Linked DNA regions of Homo sapiens: region 2 is linked to region 1. Evidence: fine-mapped expression QTL. A gene starts in region 1. The other region holds a variant in brackets. All regions are shown on one strand. Distances are between the middles of the regions. Region 1 holds the start of MINCR (MYC-induced long non-coding RNA). Region 2 has its middle 14 kb from the start of GPIHBP1.

Region 1 (8,450 bases):
CGAATGGTCAGGGAAGGACCTCAAGCTCCACAGGAGTTCGGAGACCAGGACAGCTTAATGGCAGCTCCAGGAGACCCTGGCAGAGACCTCAGCCAAGCTGTGCCGGGCTCCCGCGTGGCAGGATCTGTGAAGTAACAGACGGGTTTTTGGTGAGCAGGTTCCAGGTGAGACACACCAGTGGCCCTAAGAGGAGAAAATGCAAGGGTGGTAGGAAGTGGCGGGTGCACCAAGACCTAGCGGCCAGCCTGACCAGCACTGACTGGCACCTTGGTGCTGTGCAGTCAAGGAGAACTGGCTCAGGCTCAGGACATTCACTCCTGCTGCGCTGGGCACCAGGGACACCCCCGAAGGTGGACAGAGCACCACGGGGGCTGCCCTGGGAGCTCGCGAAAGAGAAGGGAGAAACACAGGCACAGCAGGCACCGCCTGCCAGGTGCCAGAAAGCAGCGCGTGGAGGCCTCATTAGAAGCAGAGAGCAGGGAGCAGTGACTCAAGCAGCACTGCCAGCGGGTCCTGAAGTGTGGGCAGGAGTTTGGGGAGGGCGCTGAGGTGGGGAGGCCGCTTGGCTCTCAGGGAACCCAGCCTTGTCGCACGGATGCTGGGCTTCCTACTCTGGGGTCCTTGTAGCCACTAGGGTGTTCTAACTCAGAAAAGACACCACAGGTTTGGGATTGGAAAAGGGCTTGAGAAGCACACAACCCCAGCAATAAAAATGGGGTCAGAGCAAACACTCAGAATGGGAAACCACACGCCGGCGCGGACGGGGCCAACAGACACACAGAACCACCCGGAGTGACCTCTAGCACATCGTGTGGAGCAAAAGGAGTGCCAGGAGGGCGGGCAGACGAATCCATTCCTGAGAGGCCCGATGGCAGACAGGGCCCTCCAGAAGCTAGAATACCCATCAGCTGGGGGAGGGGAAGGGAAAGGGAGGAGAAGCTCTGGAAAGTTCCATGCTGTGACCTGGGGGGATTAGCAAGAGTGTAAACATGTAAACAGTCAAGCCGAGTGCTTAAAATTTGGGCATTTTCGCTATGTAAATTATACCCTAATTCAAAAAAATCAAGAACACCATATCCCAGGAAAACTTAATATAAAATATTGACACCAGCACGGATCTTGGTGAAGCTATTCAAGGTTATGGATGAGGAAAGAATGACCAAGGCATCCAGGCAGAAGAGGAGCGTTTCAGAGAAAGGGCAGAGGCCAAGGGCTTCCCAGTGGTGCAGGCTCAGCACAGTCCTGCAAGGAAAAACCTAAAACCCAACCACATGCCCCAAGCCCTTGCTATTCGCCATGCCCTCCGTCGAGTGTAATGGCTACAGAGGGCATTCTAGAGCTTTCAGGAGCTCAGCATGCAGCCCCTCTTGCCTGCCCCCGTGGAGCCCTCTCCCCAGATGGGAGCTGGGCTCAGGGTCCTGCTGGATGGGCACATGGACCGAGGTCCTGGGAAGCCGCCTGCTCCCACTTGCATCCTGCCTGTTACTCTCGTCACCCAGACGCTGTTCACCCAGGCTCTGCAGCAGGCGCTGGGCTGGATGGTCTACCGTGTAAACGAGGGGATTTCCCATCCCACGGGCTGCTTGAGGAGCAGCAGCCTCACAGAATGGCCATGCACAGAGTGCAGGGCGGCAGGACGGGAAGGCCCTGCCTGGAGTCAGGCACACGAGTGCCACAGTAGTGGCATGATTTTGCCCACCTGAGACTCAAGGACTGGGACACCTGTCCCTCCTCCTCCACCCACGCTGCGGGGAACTGCATGGCTCCTCCGGGCGGGGACCATAGCTTTCCGCCTCAACGTACCTGGGGCTCGGCATGCTGCGTTGAATTTTGGAGTGGATGAGGAGTGAGGGTGTGGCAGGGCGGCTGGAGCTGCCCAACTGCTGAAACTGCTGCAGGTGCCACAGCGGCTGGCTCCCTGAAAGCGTCCTCCTGCCTCTGAGACCGTAGCGCAGGAGGGTGCGAGTGCACCTCCGCAAGGCCTGACGCTGCTGATCCACTTCCTCTCCCCACGATGGGGACACACTTGGCGACAGTTCCATCTGGGGTAAAAGACCCACCAAAAGGTCGCTGGCATGGGCACTCCAGGGACACCAAAGTGGAGTCTGGGAGACCCCTCGGCTTGTGCGGGGAGCATTCCTCCCCGAAATGCTCGTCCACTTCTGGTTACAGCAATCTTTGAGGGCAGGGAGGGTGGCCAGCAGGGGGCATTGTGGAGCAAGCACGTGGGCCTCGGATCCAAGCCTGGGTTCAAATCCGGGCTGTGGGACGTCCTCACCAAGTCTCGATTTCCTCCCGTAAATGAGGGATGCTGGCGCCCCTCTCGCTGTGGGGGAATAGGGCTTCCAGCACTGCTCCCAGCAGATCTCAGACCTCAGGACGTGAAGGTTATTTTAGGGACAAGCTAACCATGAAGTCTATTTAGTGTAACAGCAAGAGCTGCTAAAAACGTGCACAGACATTCCTTGTACAGCCTGAGTATCCCTTATCCAAAATGCTTGGGACCAGAAGTGTTTTGGCGGCCGGGAACAGTGGCTCACGCCTGTAATCCCAGCACTTTGGGAGGCCGAGGCGGGCGGATCACGAGGTCAGGGGATCGAGACCATCCTGGCTAACACGGTGAAGACCCGTGTCTACTAAAAAAAAAAAAAAAAAATTAGCTGGGCGCGGTGGCGGGCGCCTGTAGTCCCAGCTACTCTGGAGGCTGAGGCAGTAGAATGGCGTGAACCCGGGAGGCGGAGCTTGCAGTGAGTCAAGATCGTGCCACTGCACTCCAGCCTGGGCGACAGAGCGAGACTCTGTCTCAAAAAAAAAAGCTTTGGCTTTTTTTGGGGAATATTTGTACCATAGTTAGCAGGTGAGCCTCCCAAATTCCCACATCCGAAATCTGAAGTGTTCCAGTGAGTATTTCCTTTTGTGCGGCATGTCAGCTGCTCAAAAGTTTTGAATTGGGGGTGTTTGGATTTGGGATACTTAGCCCGTAGTGCTGAGGAGAAAATTTCTGTCTCTTCTATTTTTCCTACACTTCCCAAATTTCTTTAAAGAGTATGAATAAATGCTATTGGGTAAAAAGAAATCTGTTTAAAACCTGTGATCTTTAAAGACTTGACCAGGGTATCCCACGCTTGAGGCACTGCCTAGGCCCAGTGAGCCAAGCCCAGCCCGAGTCGGCAGCGCGGCCCCGCCCCCGCAAGCCCCGCCCCATGCCGAGGGCATTTCCGGGCGCTCTAGGCAGCTCGGAGGACCCGTTCGGAAGACTGGCGGGGGACCCCAGGCGAACCCAAGGGTGGCGGGCCAGGGCCGGGCGAGTGCCTGGCGTTGCTCGCGCGGCTGGGGGCCATGGCTGTGGGGCCTCTCTGGGAGGGGTCGCGAGGCTGTGAACTAGCACGGGGCTACGTTGTAGAGAGAGAGATGGGGCGTCACGGAGGCAGGGGGTGCCAGGCAGGGCGCGGCTGCCAGAGGCCCAGAGGCCGAGCTGGGCCCTGCAGGTCTGAGGTGCAGGACCCGATTCTGGCCCAAGCAGGGGCGTCCCACGGCTCGAGCTGCCCGTCCAGGTGGTGTCTGAGGAGAGCCTGGGCAGCGGCCTTGCAGAGGGCAGGCCAGCAGCTCCTGCTTTGAGGGCTTGGAGGAGAACAGATTCCCGAACCAGGCCCATGATCAATGTATTTGGGTATTTGAACTAAATCCAGATTTCCTGGCTTCCCCTGAGGCCTGCTGAATCCCTTGGGGTGGGGCCTGGGAATCTGCGTTTTCCAGTGGGCCTCTCAGGTAGTTGGGTGGTCCCTGAGTGGGTTCCCATGACCCCATGAAACAAGACCCTAGAAAACGCAAGGCAAAGCGGCCTGGTGAGTGGCCAATGGTCTACAGGAACTGGATGTGATCAGAGCGAGACCTGCATCAACTGGGCAGGGGAGGCGTGGAGCCATACCTGAGGAAGAGACCCAGCCGGAACCCAGGGAAGAGCAGGCTGTGAAAACTGGGCAGAAACTTGCGGCGACTCGGAAGACACTGCCAGGAAACCCTCCCCGGGCCTCCTGTGGGGCTTGTAGCAGCCGCAGGGGTTGGCTCTCACCTTCTAGTCCCAGCCAGGTTGTCTTGGAGTCAGCTAATGGGCAAGGCCCCTACCTCTCTTAGGATCTGAGGATGGGAGGGGCTGCGTTTTTCCAGAGGATCTGCACGTGTGCAGGCTGAGTGTTGAGACTTGATTGGTGTCAACTGGCACTGCCTGCCCATGATGCACAAAAGCTACTGTAAGAAACAGGGTCCATGTCTCCAGGGAGCAGGACCCCGTTCTGAGGCCACAACCCCGAGGGCAGTCTCCGCCTGCAGAGTCCTCCCTCTCGCACCGGCTCACCTCGTGGTGAATCCCTTGGCTACGGTTTGGTGTGAGAAAAGAGATGGGTGTTTCACTCCCTGCTGCATCCCTGGTGACGGCCCTGGCATTTCGGGGCATGAGATCTTTGCTTAAAGGTTTTGCGGTGGTCACTGCACAGGGGGTGGGGGTGGGGTCCCTTGGTGCAATTTATCCGATTCTGCTGCGTGGATGACATCCACAGTGTTCCTCTCCAGTGGGGATTATCTGAGACCTTTCCGCATGCCCGCACCCACAGTCCGCTCCCTCACGGCAGCATGAACTCAGGAGGCGGGCGTTCCCACAGTCATTACATTTGCAGGGCCTCTCTATGTCCACTCTGATGCCTGAGGACCAGCGCTTCCACGAAGGTGTGGCCACGTCCAGTGCTGCTCATTGGCTTCTCTCCTGCGGGAATGTTCTGATCCCGAACGGAGCCTGAGCATGCGCGAAACCCTTCCCACGTTCACAAGGTGCTTCTCCAGTGTTCCATTACATCTCACCTATGCACACTACATGCATACGGTTTCCACCGGCTGTGCGTGTCCCTAGAAGTCACATTCACGGCGTTTCTCCCTGGGAGGAATTCTCCCGTGCATGGCTGCTCTGAGACCATTTGCACCTGCGGCCACGCGTGGGCTCCTCGAGGCTTACAAACCAGGCTGGACTCCTGAAGCCCTAGCTGCACTTGGCACTCGGCGAGGTTTTTCTACAAAATCTCATCTCAGCCATCTGAGTCCTTCACCATTTATCTTATGAATCCGCTCGAACGTACAAGGAAGGCCTCTCTGCCCTCCTGCTCCAGGGAGGAGGTTTTGACCCTCAGCTCCACCTCTGCGGCTGGCCCGGTCTCCGCAAACCTTTTTCTGCTTGGCCAGCTGGTGCCATGCTAGGCTTTCCCACTAGGGGCGCCAGAGAAAGCGCGCGAGGCTGCGGAGGAGAGAGGGGCACACTCTTTCCGGTTTGCTTCCGGTTTTTTCCTCAGGCTTCCGGTCTGTTTGGTGCCCTGGTCGCGTGTCTTCCGAACTCTGCTGCTTCGCCCCGGCAAGAGCACTTCCTTCCGCGGCTGCTAAAACTGGTGCGCGGGTTCCCAACTTCGCAGAAGAGCTTCATCGGCCCCCCGCTAGAGACCTCAGACCGCAGCCATCGACGCCTCGCCTCGGGGATCTGTCCCCACCCTCGGGGCCAGGTCAGGGACCAGAGACCTGCGAAGCCCTCTCCTTAGGGGTTTAGTTCCCAGGCTTTCTGACCCCAGTAATTCCAAACGCTTCCCTTTGTTTCCACAGCCCTAGCGTAGCAGGTGCTCCCTGCAGTTTTTGCTTCTGAGATAGAGTTCTCTTTTCAGCTCCTTCGGTAGTCACTTCGTACATAGTGATTCATGATGCGAAATCCTCTCTGTTGAAATAACTGACGAGGCCTCTGTCTTCTGACTGGACCCTGACTTCCATGCCCTTTCCACTCTCACTCCAGTACATGCCCAAACCCCAATCTTTGTTGCTCCAGGCATTGCCTCTGTGGCGCTGTGTCCCCTCCTTTGAACTCTGATCCTTCTGCTCAGGCCCTTTCTCCCAGTCTGAAGTAAGGAGTGAAAAAATGTGAATTGTTCTACTCATCTGGAAAAGAGAACCCTGAGGCAGGAACAAGTCGTTAATTGCATGTGCGTTTGTCCACAGCTCACCATGAGTCAGGCCCTGTGCTAGGTGCTGGGATGAAGCAGTGACTGACACAGGCCTGGACCTGTCCTTGGGAAGAGTGCGTCTGTGACACAGATACTGTGCCATGTGGCAAAGTAAGCGCGTGGGACAGCAGAGCCTTGTTTGCCATTAAAGTAATATCACAAGTCTGTTAAGGTTGGAGAATCAAGTGAACATGCTGAAAAGTTATGGGGAATGTAGTCTCATAGCTGGGGGAGCTGGGGGCCTTGTCAATTGGTTCCCCCAGTCTGGAGAGCAATCTGAGAGTAAGTAGTGACACTGTGTGTGCTGAGTGTGTCTGTGGGGGTGTTTTTGGATAAAATTAACATTTGAATTTGTGAACTGAGTGAAGCAGAGTGCCCTTCATAATGTGGGTGGGCCTCATTCAATTAGTTCAAGGCCCGCATAGGAACCACCTCCTGCCTGACTGAACCGGGACCTACGTCTTTTCTTGCCTTCAGACTTGAATGGAGACATCAGCTCTTTGTGGGTCTCAAGTCTACTGGCTTTCAATCAGCTCTTCTGCTTGACAGCTGCAGGTCTTGGGACTGCCCAGCCCCCATAACCCTGTGAGTGCATTCCTGATAATAACCCTCTTTCTCTTGTCCTCCCCCACCCCACATCATTGGTTCTGTTTCTCTGGAGAACCATAATACATCATTTACTAATCAGGAAATAGATTCAGAGACATTAATAACTCATCCAACCTCACAGTTAACTGTAGAGTTGGGCTTGAAATTCCAAGGTCGATTTTCTTAGCCAATACACCATGCTACATATATGTATGTAAAAATAAAAACGCTTGTGAACTGAAAAGGGTCCAAACTTAAGCTCATTTTGGTCCTTAATTGCTAATCCATAGGCATGTTTTGGTCCTTAATTGCTAATCCATAAGCATGTTTCGGTCCTTATTTGCTAATCCATAGGCCTGCACACCTGCCCCCAAGGCCATGGTTAGGTCAGCACTTGGCCCTCCCCTTGTCTGGGGCTGCCAGAAGCTGCCTCAGAAGACCTCTCCCTGCAGCTCCAGTGCTTTAGGGTTCAGCGCCCCTCCAGGGCCTTTATTTCCTTCTGGGCTCAAAAGCAGATACTGTGCCAGATACAGATGATCACTTTCTGGGTTCCAGAACTCACATGCACCCCTTTTCCTGGTCTCTCACATTTGCTGTGACCAACCCAAGCCTCAGGTGGTCCTCTGCTGAGACTGTCCACTCACGCTGTTGACAGAGCCCTTCCAGGAGCTCTTTTTGTGGGGATTTGCTATGTACCTGGCACTGTGCAAAGAACCCCACCCATGCCGTCCTTGCAGCCGCCATGTGCGGTGCGGAGCGGGCTGCGCTAACCACCATTGTCAGAGGCAGAAACAGGCTCCGTGAGGAAGGATAAGTGTGGGTTATGGAATCAGGGCTGGCAGATCCCAAACCTTGGCTCCCAGATACCATGGGATCTTTAGGAAGATCCCTGGTCACTTCGGGGAGGAGAGAGAGGGCGAAGGCTGAGAATCGGGGTCCTGGGTCGGAGGAGGGAGAGGGGTGGTGGTGTGGGCTTGGAGGTGGTGTGGGTTGGAGATTGGCCGTTGAGCTGGAGATGCTCCAGGTGGTCTGCGTCCAGGTTCCTCTGGTGGCGGGGGATGGGGCAGAGCCGGCAGGGGTGGGACGGGGCTCCGAGCCAGCCCCGGGGGCGGCCACCCGGACAAGCGGCCCTCGTGTGACGCAAATCGAAGGAGGATGGGGAGAGGCGTGACCAAGAGGCCGAGCACAGCTCAGGGTCGCAGGCGTCCCGGGAGGGCTCAGGAATATCACGTCCGGTTCAACTGCACGCTGATAAACCCGGCAGCCACCACAAGGTAGAAAAATGCCCTTAAAAGTCCACGCCTGGGTCCTGCCGGGCCGCTCTGGGGTTCCCGAGAAATGTTGAGTGGATCAGATGGCACGTTCGAGAATCAGCCCCGTGCCCGCGGGCTTGGAGAAGGCACTGAGGACACTGGGAAAGACGTAAATGCCATTTCAGCGCATCTCGCGGGCCCTGCCCAACGAGGGAGGACACAGAGACCTTGCAGAGAGTTTAGGACCCGGCGCGGAGGAACAGCCCTGCCTGGCCCAGGACCCGCCGCACCCCACTTCCTTCTCCGGGAAGCCTCCCGTCAGCTGCCGCTGCGGGAGTCTCGTGCGGGCTGCCGCGAGTGCGCATGGCCCCGCCCCCTCCCCGCCCCTCCAGGAGCTGCGGCCACTTCCGGGACTATCTGGGACGGCGTGGAGGACCGCCGGGCTCCCCTCTCCGGTCGCAGCGGGCGGGAGTCCAACCCGGGCGCCGGGGTCGCCCTCTCCAGGTCTCACCTGCCCTCCTGCTGTGACTCCTCCAGAACCCCCGGCCTGGCCCCCAGGTGTGCCCGTGGTGGGCCTGTG
Region 2 (8,450 bases), 55 kb after region 1:
GAGGGGCATCTGGGAGCCCCTGTGGCCACTCATTGGTTCTCTCCATTTCCAGAATTGTGGCTGCAGGGAGCTGTGCAGAGGAAGTTGTCCTGGAGGCCGCCTGTTGAGAGGCCACTTTCACTCCGGAGAGTCTCTGTAGTTCCCCCTGGCGGCTATGCCATTCAGCGGCACCGCCTTCCTGTGGCTGGGCTGTCTCCCCTGGTGCCCATGGAACCAGCTGAACCCTTTGCCATTGAAGGACATCTGGGCTGCTTCCCAGGTTTTGCCTAAAACAAGTAAAGCTGCTGTGAACACTCATGAGCAGGTTTTTGTATGAACATGACTTTCATTTCTCTGGGGCGCATCAGGGGGTCGTGGGAGTTGCGTGTCTAGTTTGATAAGAAACAGCCAAGCTGTCTTCCAGAGCGGCTGCTCCATCGTCCACTCCCAGCAGCAGCAGGTAGGTGACCCAGCTTCTCTGCCTCCCCATCAACATGTGGGGTGGTCATGGTTTATTTATTTATTTATTTGATTTATTTTTATTTTTTCAGATGGAGCGTCTCTCTGTCACTCAGGCTGGAGTGCAATGGTGTGATCTCGGCTCACTGCATAATCCACCTTCTGGGTTCAAGCAATTCTTCTGCCTTAGCTTTCTGAGTAGCTGGGATTACAGGAGCGCACAACCACACCTGGCTGATTTTTATATTTTTAGTAGAGACAGGGTTTCACCATGTTGGCCAGACTGGTCTCAAACTCCTGACCTCAAGTGATCCTCCTGCTTTGGCCTCCCAAAGTGCTGGTATTACAGGCTTGAGCCACCGCATCCAGCAACAGTTTATTTTTTATTTAGCCGTTCTGATAGGTGTATAATGAGATCTCACCGTGAATTTTTTGTTTGTTTAGAAACAGGGTTTGCTATGTTGCCCAGTCTGATCTTGAACTTTGGGGCTCAAGTGATACACCCCCCTCGGCCTCCCAAAGTCCTGGGATGACATGAGTGAGCCATCGCTGCAGCCTCACCGTGGTTCTAGTGTCGGAACGCTGAGGGTGCGTGGTGTCGAACATCTGTTCCTGTGCACGTTTGCCTTCTGCGTGTCCTCGTCAGGGAAATAGCTCTTTACGTCGTTTGTCCATGTTGTAAGTGGGTTGTTTTTGTGCTGTTGAATTTTGAGATACGTTGTGAATAGATCGTAGATTCCAGTCCATTGTCCGCTATGCAGTTTGCAAACATTTTCTCCCAGTCTGTAGTTTGTCTTTCCTTCCTCTTCCCTGGGTCTTTTGTGGAGAAGTTTTTATGTCGAGGAGGTTGTCCTCTGCTGGGTTCCTACCCTCCTCTTGTTCATGGGATGCCCCAGCCGGGAGCTGGGTCCAGGCTTCCTGCACCACCAAAGCGGCAGTGAAAGGGCTCACCCCCGTGAGGTCTCTGCTGCTGGAAGCCTGAGTGTCAGGCAGCGCTCCCACCTCCTGATGTCTGGAAGCCCCTGCACCCCGCGGTATCCAGCATGGAACTAGCTGAACCCCCTTCCCCTCCCACCTGCAGACCCTAGAGGGCAGGAAGCCTTGGCTGTGCCCTGGTCTGAGGCCAGCCTGAAGGTGCATGACCTGCTTCCATGACAGGAGCTGGGGACGCCTCTCTCCTCTGGAAAGGTCCCAATACGGGCATCTCCTGTCAGGGACCTGGGTGCAGGAGCGGTGGCCTCGCCCTGCTTCCTGCAGAGCTGACCCATCCCGGTGACCATTAGCTTCTGCAGACCTCAGTGGTCTCAGGAAAGCGTCCCTAGGGTCTGCCTGGGACCGAAGGCAGAGGTTCCTTCCTTAGGAATTTCCTGCTTTGGGGACACTGCCTCCTTCTCCAGCGAGTTCCCACAGACTAGAACAAGGAGCCGGAGGCCCAGCAGTGGATGCCCGCTTCCTGTCCTGGGGGACAGGAAATCCCCAGGAAGATATCAGATTAAAGCAGATCCCCACATTCTGTCACCTTCCTCTGGGTGAGTGGAGAAGGAGCAGGTGACCCCGGGGAATGGGCGCGGGCTTGGGACATACTTGGTCTGAGCAGGTGACCCGGGAAATGGTGCGTGGGCACGGGACGCACTCGGTCTGGACACGCGACCCAGGGGACGGGGCGTGGGCACGGGACGCACTCGGTCTGGACAGGCGACCCGGGGGACGGGGCGTGGGCACGGGACGCACTCGGTCTGGACAGGCGACCCGGGGGACGGGGCGTGGGCACGGGACGCACTCGGTCTGGACAGGCGACCCGGGGGACGGGGCGTGGGCACGGGACGCACTCGGTCTGGAGGCTGCCATGCTGGAGAGGAGGAGCCCTCAGGGTCTGTGTGGAAGAGGGAGGCAGGCCCTCCCAGACCCATCTAACAGACTCGAGCAGGGTCAGCATGCTGGGCAGGTCCCCCTCCTCTATCCCTGGAGCCAGGCCCAAGTGCCCCTCACTCCAGCTGCAGGTCACGGCCGCCCTGAGCCAGGAGGAAACAGGGTGTTCTCACTGCACTTGCTCCTGGGTCAGGGGCGGTTCAGGGTCACAGGGGCCGGTGCAGGGTCACAGGGGCCAGATGGTGGCCCCAGGGCTGGGTTCTGGGTGGGTGGTGAGCCAGCTGGGGGTGGGGCTCGGTCCCCGTGGGTTTGCTGGTCCCTCCCTATTAAGGGTGCGTAGGTGTGGCAGGGGTGTGTGTGAGAAGCCGGGCCTCGGGCAGACCCCATGCCGGAGGAGGGTCCGAAACACTGTGGGGGGTGGGGACAAGCAAGGAACCAGAACCCGGCTTGGGAAACAGACTGCAATGAGGCAGGGCAGGGGTCGCCCAGCACATGCCAGGGTGTGGCGGCCGAAGGTCAGAAAATCTCCACACCAGTCCCGTGAGATGGGCTTGGTTTTTCCCAGTGTCGTGGACGAGAGACCCGAACACAGAGCGGCTAAATGGCCAGCCTGAGACGGCACAGCTGGCAGGCAGCAGGTCCACACTCCGGTCCCAGTGGGATCTCACTCCAGGCCACACAGGTCCCTTTCTCACCTCGGGGCCCACACAGAGGCGTTGCCCCAGGCTCCAGGCCCCGGAGGTTTCCAGGGAGGGGTGCTCTCTGGACGGGCCCAAGCCCCTGCAGGTGTCGGGGCTGAGAGGCGTGGCCTGGAAGGTCACCAAGGACTGGGGCCTGTGCCTGGACGGCACTCAGAGCAACAGCGAACAGGAGGCACGGGGGCTTGGGAGGAAGCCAGGAGCAGGGTCCGACCACAGAAGGGGTGCATGTCGACTGAGCACCCGCCCCGGGCTCCAGATGCCTTCGAGGGCTCCCTCCATGATCCCACCCAGGGCCCACTGGGAAAGGAAGTGCCCTCCTCATCTACCTGTGCAGGTAGCCTTGGCCACCAGGACAGAAAGGGAAGCAGCAGGATCTGAACCTGTTCTCCCCCCCGCCTCCCTCTCCCCCCCGCCTCCCTCTCCCGCAGGCACCAACACTGGGCACAGGCTGCTACGCTCCAGAGGGGCAGGGAACCCACCGCAGCCCCTGGCGCCCTGAGTGCTCCTTGTGGAAGGGGAGGCAGGTTATGATGGAACGGGAGTACAGAGAGGAGCCCAGCCCACGAGGACCCAGGTGGTCAGGCCTGCAGAACAAGGCGATATTTGGATTTAAACGACAAAGGAGGCCGGGTGTGGTGGCTCACGCCTGTAATCCCAGCTACTTGGGAGGCTGAGGTGGGAGGATCGTTTGAGCACGGGAGTTGCTGATGAGCCTGGGAAACATAGTGAGACCCCATCTCTACCAAAAATAAATAAATTAGCCAGGCATGGTGGCACATGCCTGTGGGCCCAGCTACTCAGGAGGCTGAGGTGGGAGGATCGCTTGAGCCCAGGAGGGTGAGGCTGCAGTGAGCTATGATTGCACCACTGCACTCTAGCTGGGGTGACAGAGTGAGACCCTGTTTCATAAATA[G/A]ATAAATAAATGGGAGTTTGCTGGGAAGGTGGCCTGGGAGGAAACAGCAAGTGCTGAGGAAACAGCAGCGCAGGGCAGGGGTGGGGCCCAGGGCAGGGGTGGGGCCCAGGTATTCTGGTGCCACTGGGCCAGGTCCCATGGGTCCAGCAGGGGATGGAGCCTGAGGTCAGACCTGGGTGCCGGTGGTCCTGCTGCTGGCCAGGTCGTGGTGACAGCTGAGTCTGGAGGAGGCAGAGGCACCATATGGAATTAACTAGAAGCTCAGGTCAGTGGCGCGTGGTGCTCGCCGGCACTGTCCGTGGTTCTGAAGGAGACCGAGTGGGTAGGCATGTCTTGCCTGGGGTGCAGAGGGTCCTGGAGTCTTGTGGGGCTCAGACACAAGGTCAGAGCCCAGGTGCCAGCAGGCAACCTCTGGCCTGGCTGTTAGGTGGCCTGGGGCTGACCCCACACTCATTCCTGTCATATCGCTCATCCTCACATCCTCCCAGGCATGACGGCACTTCTCTCATGGCACTGGCCTCTCTGTGCCAGCACAGTCACCTCCATAAATTAAAATCCTGTGGATGCAAAGTCACACACAGCCCCTTCCTCTCTGCAGATTCTCTTTCACTGCAGTCTCTGTCTCTTTCTTTTATTTATTTATTTTTAATTTTAATTTAATTTAATTTTATTTTTTTGAGAGGGTCTCAGTCTGTTGCCCAGGCTGGAGTGCAGTGGTGCAATCCTCACTCAGTGCAGCTTCAACCTCCTGGGCTCAATCGATCCTCCCACTTCAGCCTCCTGAGTAGCTGGAACTACAGGCCTGCGCCACTATGCTCGGCTAATTTTTTTTTTTATTTTGTAGAAATGGTGTCTCACTATGTTGCCCAGGCTGGTCTGGAACTCCCAGGCTCAAGTGGTCCTCCTGCCTTGGCCTCTCAAAGTGCTGGGATTACACGTGTGAGCCACCACGCCCGGCCACTGCAGTCTTAACAACAACTTCAGAACCTTCTTCAGAGAGCTGTGCCTGCACCGGCCTGCCCTTCAGGAGCTTCCCACCAACTGGGACACTGGGCAGGACCCCAGGCGGCAGCAACATAAAACTGTGAGCTGATGGGTGCAGGACAGAAGGAGCCTGGGGGTCAGAGAAGGATGGAGAGGGCAGGGCAGTCAGGATGCTCACTGGAGGACAGAGGAAGCAGGCAGAGCCCAGAATTTGGAAAACCCTGGGAGAGGCAGCCCTGTGCTCCGGAGCCGAGAAAGCTCCTTGAATCCTGGCTCCAACAGGTCTCCTCACAGCCTCCGCATTTTGCAGAATGGAGTGCAACAGCAACCTCACAAGTTGTGTGGGATTGCATGAGACCGTCACAAAGACCCAGCCTGGGCCTGGGACGGGGGAGCCAAGGTGAGGGGTGCTAAGTCCATACAACGATGGGGCAGGAGCGTGCTGCGGGGCGGGGCACTGGCCTGCAAGTTGGGGGCCCCCACGTCGTGTTGTGAGGAAAGTTGCATCACTTGTGCAACCTTTGTGAAAACAAAAAGCTGAGTCCTTTCCTCTGCCTGGGCCTCAGTTTCCTCATTCAGAACAGGAGGGGCTTTTGGGTCAGGAAGGTCTAAAGCATGGGGCTTGGGCTGGGGAGAGAAGTCCAGGGCAGAGGTGGGGCTGGAGTATGGAAAGGCCCTCGGGGCCCTTCATACATATTCCCAAAGCACCCAGGAGGGACTTCAGGGGGACCAACTGCATGTGGGGAGGCGCAGGATGCAGGGGGCCAGGCAGCTGGGCACCCCCTCCTCCAGGCAGGCCTCCCTGTACCACACGGCTGTCTCCGCTTGTGCCTGTGTTTACCAGCCTGGGCTTTGTGGGGTCTGGGATGTTCTCACTAAGATGCGTCTCCCCCAGCCCCAGCCCCACTTCCCACATAGTGCCTGGCACAGAGTTCTGGGAAGGTTTGTGGAATGAACCCGGGAATGACTCACGGGCACCGCAGTAGGGGAAGCTGGGGGCAAGGGGGGCCTCCCTCAGGGCCATGCTGTCTCCTACCACCACCTCCTTGCTCCTGCGGCTGACATCCCAGATCCCGGACCTGGGCGCCCACTCACCTTGGTCCAGCATGGAGCACCCTGCCCAGCACCCCAAGGCCTGCTGGGCTGCGGGGGGCTCCCAGTCTCTCCTGGAAGCCCCACCCCTTCCCAGTTGCTTCTGCGCTGCCTTCCCGCCCTTCTTTCCCTGACTTCAGTGCTCAGTGGAGCGTCACCTCCCTGGAGGCCTCCTGCAAGCCCCAGACAGGAGAGCAGGGGCCTAGTTGCTGTGGGGATTCAGCCACATACATCTTTTCTTTTATTGACATTGACTCTTCATTACAGAATTAGCATGCCTGCCGAGAAGATCCAAATGAAAGAGCAGTACCTCAAGTGAGAAGCAGCGCCCTCCCCACTGCTGTCTCTGAAAGCAATTCCCAGGAGTTTGCTCCCGCTTCCAGACAGTTTTCTCTGCCTATGCAAAAGCACATGTTGAAAACAACAATTTGTTAAAAAAAAAAAAAAAAAAAAAAAGGACTGAGCCTGGTCGCTCATGCCTGTAATCCCAGCACTTTGGGAGGTGAGACAGGAGGATCACCTGAGGTCAGGAGTTCGAGACCAGCCTGGCCAACAGGGTAAAACCCCAACTCTACCAAAAAACAAAAAAACAAAAATTAGCCCGGCGTGTTGGTGCACGCCTGTAGTCCCAGCTACTCGGGAGGCTGAGGCAGGAGACTTGCTTGAACCCAGAAGGCAGAGGTTGCAGTGACCCGAGGTCACGCCACTGCACTCAGCCTGCGTAACAGAGAGAGACTCCGTCTCAAAAAAAAAAAAAGAAAAAGAAAAAAAAGAAAAAAAAAACACTAACTTGTAACCGGCAGGGTTGCTGCATGAGTTTCTTTCCCTCTGTGAGGCTGTTCTTGAGTGTAAGTGAGCCAGTGTGGCCAGGAGGGTGACAAGAAGCAGTGTGCACCTTGCTGTCACCTGGACTTAGAGATTCTGGAGGGGACAGTCCAGGGCTGGTGGGAAATGACACTGAGGCAGCAAGAGGGGGTCCCAAGATCTGTTAAAATCTCTGCAGGACATCACCGTACCCTGTACAGCTGGGGAGGCTGAGGCCGGTGGCGAGGAACCATCTCCCTTCTCAGGGGGCTTACCACAACGGCAGTGCTTCCTCACGTCACTCCACCGACCTCAAGGATATCAAAGCCAAGCTCCTTCTACAGAGCAGAAATAAAGACTGTTACTAGTGATAAGTGCCAGCGCCACTGAGGTTTGAAAGGCCCCTAGCTGGTTTCCGTCACAGACCATCCAAGCTGCTGAAATGCACGCTGCTCCAGATGGCCATGACCTGATCCCAGCAAAAACGCAGGAGACAAAGCTGTGCGCGGAGTTTGTCCAGAATGAAACAGTCATTCGATAAACTAGATAAAAGACTCCAAAACATGGACAAGGAAAAAAACCTGGCATAAATCAGTTGGTTGGTGGTGTGTAGGTCATTGTCATTACTTTCTAAGTTTTCTACAAGAATTACCTGGAGGCTTCATCTACAAGATAATGTAATGGGCAGAAGGGTCTGGCCACCCGTGGCTTGTAGAAGGAAGCCAAAATAGTAACGAGGTGTGATGGAGAATGAGACTTTATTATCCGTCGTAGCAGAAAGCAATTCCACTCTTCCATTTGTGGAGGGAACGCAGGGGGATTTTCTTTTTCTGTTTTTTGAGACAGGCTTTTGCTTTTGTGGCCCAGGCTGGAGTGCAGTGATTCATCTCGGCTCACTGCAACCTCCGCCTCCCAGGTTCAAGCGATTCTCCTGCCTCAGCCTCCCAGGTAGTTGGGATTACAGGCGTTCGCCACCATGCCCAGCTAATTTTTGCATTTTTAGTAGAGATGAGGTTTCACCATGTTGGTCAGGCTGATCTTGAACGCCTGACCTCAGATGATCCACCTGCCTCGGCCTCCCAAAGTGCTGGGATTATAGGCGTGAGCCACCGCACCCTGCCACGCAGGGGATTTTAAAGAGAGGGTTTGCAGAAAAGGCTGGGGGGTGAGGAGGTGCCAGGTGCATGACCCACTCCCGTGGCTTGTCTTGAATTGTTGTTCCTTCTGGTGCAGGGGCCAGCGTGGCTTCTACCAGGTTATAAACTAATTGTTGTCAATCTTGTTGTCAGTCTCTAGACGGGAGTGGGTTCCTGCCTTGAAGTAACCTTTTGCTGGAGAGAGAATTCCAGAGGTGTCTGGTCTGTGTCAGGATCTGACCCTTGAAGGTTTTAAGGAAACAGATGACCAGATTGGTGAGCATAGTGCGCGCCTAACAACCTTCCACGTAAATAAGTGTGCATGAGGCCTGGAGCACAGAACAGGAAAAGAGAGCGGAGGTCACAGCACATTCCGAGGCTGTAAAGTTTATCTCCAGAGCTATGGCTTGAAACTGGGGAGAAAGGAGAAGAGGGGAAATAAAAAGAAGTTTTAAAACGCGGTTTGAGGTGAAGCTGCTAAGCGGCTTGGCTGCAAGAACCTTGGCTTCCACA

What was found.
Region 2: its variant is fine-mapped to the expression of MINCR in esophagus muscle (GTEx, PIP 0.95).

Annotation. Positions count from the first base shown.
Region 1 is chr8:143,278,572-143,287,021 of GRCh38, reverse strand. MINCR (MYC-induced long non-coding RNA) reads left to right here and starts at 5,322. Exons shown (of 3, transcript NR_120682.1): 1 at 5,322-5,540; 2 at 6,025-6,140; 3 at 6,507-6,867. RefSeq lists enhancers at 5,393-5,542, 6,839-7,481.
Region 2 is chr8:143,223,359-143,231,808 of GRCh38, reverse strand. No RefSeq gene overlaps it. Among named protein-coding and RNA genes, the nearest start is that of GPIHBP1, 14 kb to the right of the region's middle. The variant G/A (reference allele first, on the strand shown) is at 3,922.